Homo sapiens: one gene and its partner. The protein of the gene in region 2 interacts with the protein of the main gene of each other region in a biochemical or structural test. Each region holds a gene or a part of one and is shown on either strand. Other genes may lie near its edges.

Evidence for each region.
Region 1: of the proteins of CUEDC2 (region 2) and MAPK1, one has a biochemical effect on the other in vitro, tested with the Homo sapiens proteins (one study listed by BioGRID).

Annotation. Positions count from the first base shown.
Region 1 is NC_000022.11:21,857,390-21,861,198, reverse strand, and holds part of MAPK1 (mitogen-activated protein kinase 1), read left to right. Parts: intron 1-3,809. UniProt on the Homo sapiens protein: Serine/threonine kinase which acts as an essential component of the MAP kinase signal transduction pathway. MAPK1/ERK2 and MAPK3/ERK1 are the 2 MAPKs which play an important role in the MAPK/ERK cascade.
Region 2 is NC_000010.11:102,429,612-102,434,175, forward strand, and holds the start of CUEDC2 (CUE domain-containing protein 2), read right to left. Parts: upstream 2,964-4,564; 5' UTR 2,915-2,963; intron 1-2,914.

The DNA of each region.
Region 1 (3,809 bases), on a different chromosome or scaffold from region 2:
GATCCACCTGCCTCGGCCTCCCAAAGTGCTGGGATTACAGGCGTGAGCCATTGCACCTGGCCGCATTGTGCCTACTTTATCTCGTGGTACTCAGTGGGGGTGATTTTACCTCCCTGCTACAGAGGCATTTGGAAATGTATAGGGGGGCGGCTTTTTGTTGTGTTGTCACGTTGATTAGGGGGTGTTATTGGCCGTCAGTAGGCATGTCAAGGGCAGACATGCTAAATGGTCTGGATTGCACGGTACACTCCCTCCACTGGAGAATCATCCTGCCAAGATGCCCATAGTACAGCACCCCAGCCTGCCCCAAGAAACATCAGGCTCTATTTAAGTCCCGCTTTTCTCTAAAGCTCATCTCTATGAACTTTGCCCTATTGCTTCCTGTTAATGCACTCTCTTCATGGATCTCTGCTGGGTGTTTGTACCACCTGTTTGAAAGGCAGGAACAGCAATAACATATATCATATATAAAAACTCTAGACCTGGAGACAGAGATATTGAGATTCTTAATTTTGCTTGCTCATTGTTTACTTAACTTTTTTAATCAAGAAGTCTCCTCTACACTTTTGGAGCTCAAAGATGCAAGGACAGCAGCTTACATGAGTAACAGAAGAATCTAGTGTTTCTGAGCAGAGTTTAGAGTAAAAGGATAAGTCAAAACAAAATTAATTTTTATATTAATAGCATCCCTAATGATGTATTCCTGGTAGTTAGCTATAACCATTACACCATTCCCATAATCTGATTTGTGTAAATTCAAGTTGACTTTTCCCCAAAACTGTATGTAATTTATTCCTCACCTTGCTCACAATTTATATACCTATTAATTGAAAAACACCTCATTCCCCAACAAACATCTAGAGCTCCTTGCCTCCGGCCTACTCCACCCACCCTCTTGCCTAATCCTGAGATGCTATTTTGCTCCCCTTTAGATTTGCTTTTTTTCTTTCACTTCTTGAGGCTCCCACACTGAAAGGTGCCTAGGAGCTCATCCAGTAGCTGCGCTGTCTCTGCTCCCTCTAGGAAAGGCCACCTGCCTGAGCTTTGAAATGGCCCACACCGTACCAGAAGGAAGAAGAGAGATTCCAGGAGGATTCAGACGTTACCCAGGCTTTCTGGAAACTGAGCAGAACCACAGGAGGAGAAAGCTATAGGCAGCTGAACAAAATTTATGTGTTTCTATTTCCCCTGCTATAACATGAAAGGACTGGGCTCTGTCTGTGGTTTTCAAATCTCCTCCTCTCTTAGGGGCTTCAGGCCTCACCCCAAATAGGGAAACTTCACATACAGCATTCTCTCCCCTAATCCCTGTTTTTTCTATTCTTTGCTCTTCTCTTATCTACCTCCTTCCCCTCCCGTTTCCCTTCTTCCTCTGCCCTTAGTCTTTTTTCTTTTTCTTAATTTCCTTTTAGTCATTATCATCTTCAGTTCACATAGGTAGTAACTATTAGGGTTAGCAGGGCAAGATCCCATTTGGAAAAAGGATTTGATTGCTTTGAAAATGATGTTGGGCAACCCACAGGATAGATGGTCTCCAAGGTCCCTCCCAGATTCTCAGACTCAAGGCAGGCCCTGGGGTTTGAACCTATGGCCAGTAGGAGCTGGATAGCAGGTGTCTGCATGGATAATATGCCATGATCAACTGACTAATGTTAGTTGCAAGCCTGCCTTGCTGGTTTAAGCTTCATTCTCATTCTTGTCTTTTTTTTTTTTTTTTTTTTTGAGACAGAGTCTCACTCTGTTGCCCAGGCTGGAGTGCAGTGGCGCGATCTTGGCTCACTGCAACCTCTGCCCCCAGGTTCAAGCAGTTCTCCTGTCTCAGCCTCCTGAGTAGCTAGGATTACAGGTGCCTGCCACTGTACCTGGCTAAGTTTTTTTTTTTTTTTGTAGTTTTTAGTAGAGATGGGCTTTCACCCTGTTGCCCAGGCTGGTCTTGAACTCCTGACCTCGTGATCCATTCGCCTCAGCCTCCCAGAGTGCTGGGATTACAGGTGTGAGCCACCGCGCCTGACCGTCATCCTTGTCTTTGAGGTATTATATTTTGCACTTTACACATAAGGGAACTGGGTGTCAGGTAACTCGTTCAGGGTTCACAGCCAGTAAGTATATTGCAGAACTGAGATGTAAATTGAGATTTATGCAGACCCCAAATCCTGTGACCTTTTTTCTTTTAACTACTATAGGCTTTTCTCTGTTATACCGAGTTACCTAGAAACGTACTTCCTACAGCCTGGGTTCCTGAATGGATTAGCCCTAAAGTATAAAATGATTATGCCATTGCAGACAGACCTGAAGAAGAGGCTAGAAAGGATTAGAGTTAAAGTAACTTTGTTTTTTGTTTTTGTTTTTTCTTTATCTCCAAAGGATCTGTCATCTAGCAACTTAATTTTTATCAGGAAGCAGTATTGATTTCTTCCCATTCCTTCTAGTTACCTCTACCAGTTTCTTGATTTTCATTCATTTAATATTATTAAACACGTACCGGATTATGTGCTAGGCAGTAGGAACAAAGTAGTGAACAAAAGTTGTTCTTACTCTTTGGTGTTTACAGTCCAACAGGGCAGTAATAACATTTACTGAGTATGGTGAGGTGTGGAGTGCCACTGGATGATATAAGATATTCTGAGTAGTCATGAAGGGTTTCCGGGAGGAAGTGGTGTTTAAGCTGGGACCTGAAGGAAGACTTAGAGCTAGCTGGGTAAAAGGTAGGGTAGAGTGCTGGAATGTTTTAGGCACTACTTTGTAGAGACTGCATTATAGAAAATGAAAAGTTTATGATTAAGATCTGGGGGCCTTTGTCATATTACTGCAAGGATAGAAAGTGCAGTTAAAGCTTTAGGTATAGTTGGAACCAGGAACTGGAAAATAGACCAACGTAGCTACCTCCCTCCCTCTTTACAGTTACAAAAGCTTCTTGTACCCTACATCTCTCAGCAGCTGGATTTTCCCCCCTCTTTTCTCTTTTGTCACTTCCCCATGCACTCAGCAGAGGAGAGCTGACCCTAGCTCCCTGAAGGTATGTGTCTTCAGGTTTTTTGATGACCAGAGGCTGAGAACACTCTGAATCCAATTCCAAGTGGAACAGAATGTGTAAAAACACTGTTAGGGAGATCATTCTGCACAGAACAGCTCACTCCACCTGGCCTTTCCAGCCTGGGAGAGTGTCTGCCTCTGGTCTAGTCAGCTGAGGCCCAAGGTGGGGTCATTTATTAAATAAAGCTGCATATCTCGGAATGTCTAAAGGGCAAGGTGGGAATTGTCAAAAGGGGTCTCATTGATTTCTGACTTGTTAGGTTAAAGTTCTTGGTACTGTTTTCCCTGTCATTCTCCAGGGAGTGTGTATCACTCTCCGGTTTTTACAGATGAGGAAAATGAAACAAAAGTTGGGTAACTTGCCAGTCACAAGTAAGGGGTCAAAGGATTGTCATGAGTATTAAATAAAACAGTATACTTGAAGTCCTGAGCACTTGGTACCTAGTTAATGCTCTGTTATTCCTTTGAAGTAAACAGGGTTGACAAGATGTGAATCCCCCTTTGTCTCGGTCTCTATGTAAAGCAGCATGTGCAGAAGTACAAATATTTGGCTTGGTGGTCAGATGACTTTACAATGGTATGGAAGTGATACACATGCAGTAGAAACCTTACTTCCGAGTACCCACGCAACTGTTCTGTTTTTCATTTTCAGTATAGTATTTCATACATCATATGAGTTACTCAACACTTTTATTATAAAATGGGCTTTGCGTTAGATGATTTTGCCCAACTGTAGGCTAATGTAAGTGCTCTGAACATGTTTAAGGTAGGCTAAG
Region 2 (4,564 bases):
GCCAGAGCCCTCATGGGCCCTGAGGAAGAGCAGAATGGCTCAGCCCAGGCATACTAGATCCCATCATGCAGCTCCCTCAGGGTAGAACCGCCTCCAGGGACCTACCTCGACCCTGGGTTACATCACCCTCGAATCCTGGGCTGTCAGTTGCATGGTAGCCTCTGCCGGGACAAAGGCCCATGGCTGCTGCATGAAAGCCCAGTTTCTTTCTTTTTTTTTTTTTTTGAGACGGAGTTTCGCTCTTGTTGCCCAGGCTGGAGTGCAATGGTGTGAACCTGACAGGGTCAAGCAATTCTCCTGCCTCAGCCTCCTGAGTAGCTGGGATTACAGGCGCCTGCCACAACGCCCAGCTAATTTTTTGTATTTTTGGTAGAGACGGGGTTTCACCATGTTGGCCAGGCTGGTCTCGAACTCCTGACCTCAGGTGATCTGCCCACCTTGGCCTCCCAAAGTGCTGGGATTACAGGCATGAGCCACCTGTGTGGTGGTGACTGAAACTTGGCTGAAAGCCCAGGTTTTCTTTTTTTTTTTTTAATTTTATTTATTTATTTATTTATTTATTTATTTTACTTTTGAGACAGAGTTTCACTCTTGTTGCCCAGGCTAGAGTGCAATGGCGCGATCTTGGCTCACCGCAACCTCCACCTCCTGGGTTCAAGCGATTCTCCTGCCTCAGCCCTCCTGAGTAGCTGGGATTACAAGCATGTGCCACCATGCTCGGCTAATTTTGTATTTTTAGTAGAGACAGGGTTTCTCCATGTTGGTCAGGCTGGTCTCGAACTCCCGACCTCAGGTGATCTGCCCGCCTAGGCCTCCCAAAGTGCTGGGATTATAGGCGTGAGCCACCGTGCCCGGCCTGAGAGCCCAGTTTCTAGGGAAGAAGCTTCTCAGGGATGTGTCTCATGCTTCTGGGTTTTTAGCCAAGGCCTGGGGGCCAGGGAATTTTTAGGAAACTCTTCACTGTCCCCAAATAAAAAGACTTGCTCCCCTAAGCTTTTCTCTAGTTTGTATTCCAAGGGAACATCCTCCCTCCCTCCTCCTGTTTTTGGTCTACCCAAACTTCACCCAGGCTTCTAAGCTCTTTTACCCTTCCCCATCCCCGGTAGCCTTCCTAAGTACATCCTTCCTGCTCAGGGGCTCCTAATACTTCTCCCCGCATAGCCCCTGAGTTGGGGAAGATCTGGTCTGCCAGACTGGTTTCCTAAGTAGCACCTAAGCAGCCACCCTTCTCCAGGGTAAGAACATGATTTCCATGAGACATTTCAAATTCCAGATGTAGCCCACAGAACCCCATTGCTTCTTGGGGGCCGCAAATTAGAGATCATTGGTTGATGGTGTCTACCAAATGTGACTGTCATCCTGTCATGAGTCCTGCCTAAATGCCTCCGATGATGGTAATATTAGCATTTATTGCCTCTGCTTACGAGGCATTGTCCTAAGCACTTTTACATGTATTAACTTACCTAATCCTTACAATAACTCTAAAATGTAGATACTGTTATTCTCCCCATTTTATTTTATTTATTTTATTTATTTATGTATTTTTGAGACGGAGTCTCGCTCTGCCATCCAGGCTGGAGTGCAGTGGTGCGATCTCAGCTCACTGCAACCTCCACCTCCCTGGTTCAAGCAATTCCCCTGCCTCAGCCTCCTGAGTAGCTGGGATTACAGTCGCATGCCACCATGCCTGGCAAATTTATTTTGTATTTTTTAGTAGAGACGGGGTTTCACCATGTTGGCCAGACTGGTCTCGAACTCCTGACCTCAGGCAATCCACCCGCCTCGGTCTCCCAAAGTGCTGGGATTACAGGCATGAACCACCGCGCCCGGCCGTATTATCCACATTTTACCTGAAAGGAAATGAAGGCACTATGAGGTTAAGTAACTTGCCCAAGGTCACAAGGCAAGTTAATGGCAGATTTACACCCAGGCTGTCTGGATCCAGAACCCTCACTGTTAACCACCACACTACATCACCTCTCACGATGCAAATTGTGTGGCCCCATCCTATATTCTGAATCTCCTCTCCTGCCTGGCTGGCTATATTGTCTATTTCAGAATCTTTGCTCACACCACTCTCCCAGCCCAGAGCATCTGTCCCTCTGCCTCTCCAAATCTCATTCTGCAGGACTCCCTTTCTGCAGCCAACCCTAACTGCCCCACCTTCACTGCTCCCAGCTAGCCTGGGAGCTTCCCAAGGGCAGCACAGGCCTGGACCCTCCAGATGCTAGATAGAGACACTGTGGACAAATTTAAGTGAGAGTGGGGTAAGAAGTACTATGCTGCTCCCTTGGGGTGGGGAGGTGCTTAAAGTGGAGGGAGAGCAGGCCATGTGGGAGGAGGAATCCTGGGAGCTAGTGTGAAAGGAGTCCTAGCGAACTTCTCAGGGAGGCAGCAAGGGGTCTAGCATGGAAGGTCTTCACTGCTTCTCCCAGCCCCTGTGAAGCCCGGTTCCTGAGGCCCTGGACCCATAACGCAGGCCCCAGAGGATATCATTGTCCTCTGATACCCAAGTCAGACCTTAGAGGCACCAAGGGCATTGAGGGGAACAAGGGATCCCTGCATCCAAAGTCAGGCGGGAGCACAAACAGGGAGGGCGAGCACAGGAAGTGGGACCGCGATGATGGACGACCCCTGAAGCAGCAGCTCCCTAAACCCGCTAGCGGGACACCCGTAAGCGTCCAGAATAGTGGGCCCGAAGGCACAGGGATGCGGCTGTGGCCTTGGAGGACACATGACGAGGCAGGCCTGAGCAAACTGGATGTGCCTTGATACAGGCCACGGCGAGAATCAGAGATGGGGGTCCGACGGGCCCCGGGGGGGGTACCGTGGGGGAACACATCGGACGGGTACCCTGGGTCAGCGCTCTCCGCGACTCTCCTAGCCCTGGGCCGGGGGCAGGAGGGGAAATCACCTGCTCCGTCGGGCGCCGCCGGCGACTTGTCCCGCGCGGTGCAGCTCTCATCCCCCAGCCCCACCAACGAGATCAAAGGCGGGGCCCAGAGCGGTTCCCTTCCAGAGGCGCCGTGGCGGCCATGTTTGAGAAGGGCAAGTTGCCCACAACAGGGCGGAGCTCCTGCTCTAATTCTCTAACGTCCCAGGGCTATGGACGGGCTCCCTTGGCGGCCAGTTTTGTTGCGCGTAGGGAGGCGTTAGGCGTGAAGGTCTTGAGAGGGGGTGGAGTCGAAGTGGGTAGGACTGCATCCCCGTCTTGTTCCTTCTCATCCGTCAGAGACCCGAAACCTTTCTCTTTCTTTCTCTCTCTCTTTTTCTCGTCTCTCTCTCTCTCTCTCTCTCACTTTTTTTTCCTTTTCTTCTTCTTTTTTTTTTTTGGGAGGGAGCCTCGCACTGTCTCCCGGGCTGGAGTGCAGTGGCGCGATCTCGGCTCACTGCAACCTCCGCCTCCCGGGTTCAAGAGATTCTCCTGCCTCAGCCTCCCGAGTAGCTGGGATTACAGGCGCGCGCCACCACGCCCAGATAATTTATTGTATTTTTAGTAGAAACGGGGTTTCACCATGTTGGCCAGGCTGGTCTCAAACTCCTGACCTCGTGATTCGCCTGCCTCGGCCTCCCAAAGTGCTGGGATTACAGGCATGAGCCACCGCGCCTGGCCTCTTTTCTTTTCTTCTTTCTTTATTTTCCTTTCTTTCCCTCCCTCCCTTCCTTCCTTCTCTTTCTTTTTCTTCTTTTCTTGCTGTTACAGCCCCAGGCTGGAGTGCAGGTTCACGAGTGCGAACATGGCTCACTGCAGCCCCGACCTCCTGGGTTCAAGTGATCCTCCCATCTCAGCCTCTGGAGTAGCTGGAACCACAGGCGCGTGCCACCACGCCGAGCTAATTTTTTTTTTTTTTTTTTTTTTTGTAGAGACAGGGTTTTTGCCACGTGGCCCAGGCTGGTCTCTTAGGTACTGACTTCCCCACCCTGTCTGTACCTTTTGCATTCCCTTAACAGCAATGTCTCCCCTAGATTGGGGTGAGCTACAGGTCTGTGTCTCCGGAGGGTGGAGCCTGGGATTTTGGACGTGGTCTGGGAGAGGTGGAGTGGTAGCAGGTGCCAGGATGAGGATCCACCTGAGCCCTGTCATGGACAGCCTGTAGACCATGCCTACCCCCCGGGGCCTTCATCCCCCATGTTGGCAGGGCTGCTTGTCTAGGACAGGAGAGCTGAACTCCAGGGCCCAACAAGACTTCAACTTCCTCTTTTTGTTCCTGCTGCCACAGATTCCCGGTGCTGCCCTGTGGGGAAGCCCCACAGCCCTCCCCTCTTGGGAACCCTGAAATGGGTCACAAGGGGAAGAGTCCCCTTCAAGGATAAAATTTCCCATCCCCCATCAGCAGGGATGAGCCCTTTTTAGTGCTAGTTCCTTCGTGGGGTGCTGGGGACCCGGAAGCTGTCCCTGCCCTCAGGGAGCTCACAGTCCAAGAGAGAAGTCCCATCTTTCCTCTCTCCTAGGGACTAAGGCAGTGCCAAGATACTATGCTGCAGTGGCTCACACCTGTAATTCTAGCACTTTGCAAGGCTGAGGTGGGAGGATCGCTTGAGCCCAGGAATTTGAGACCAGCCT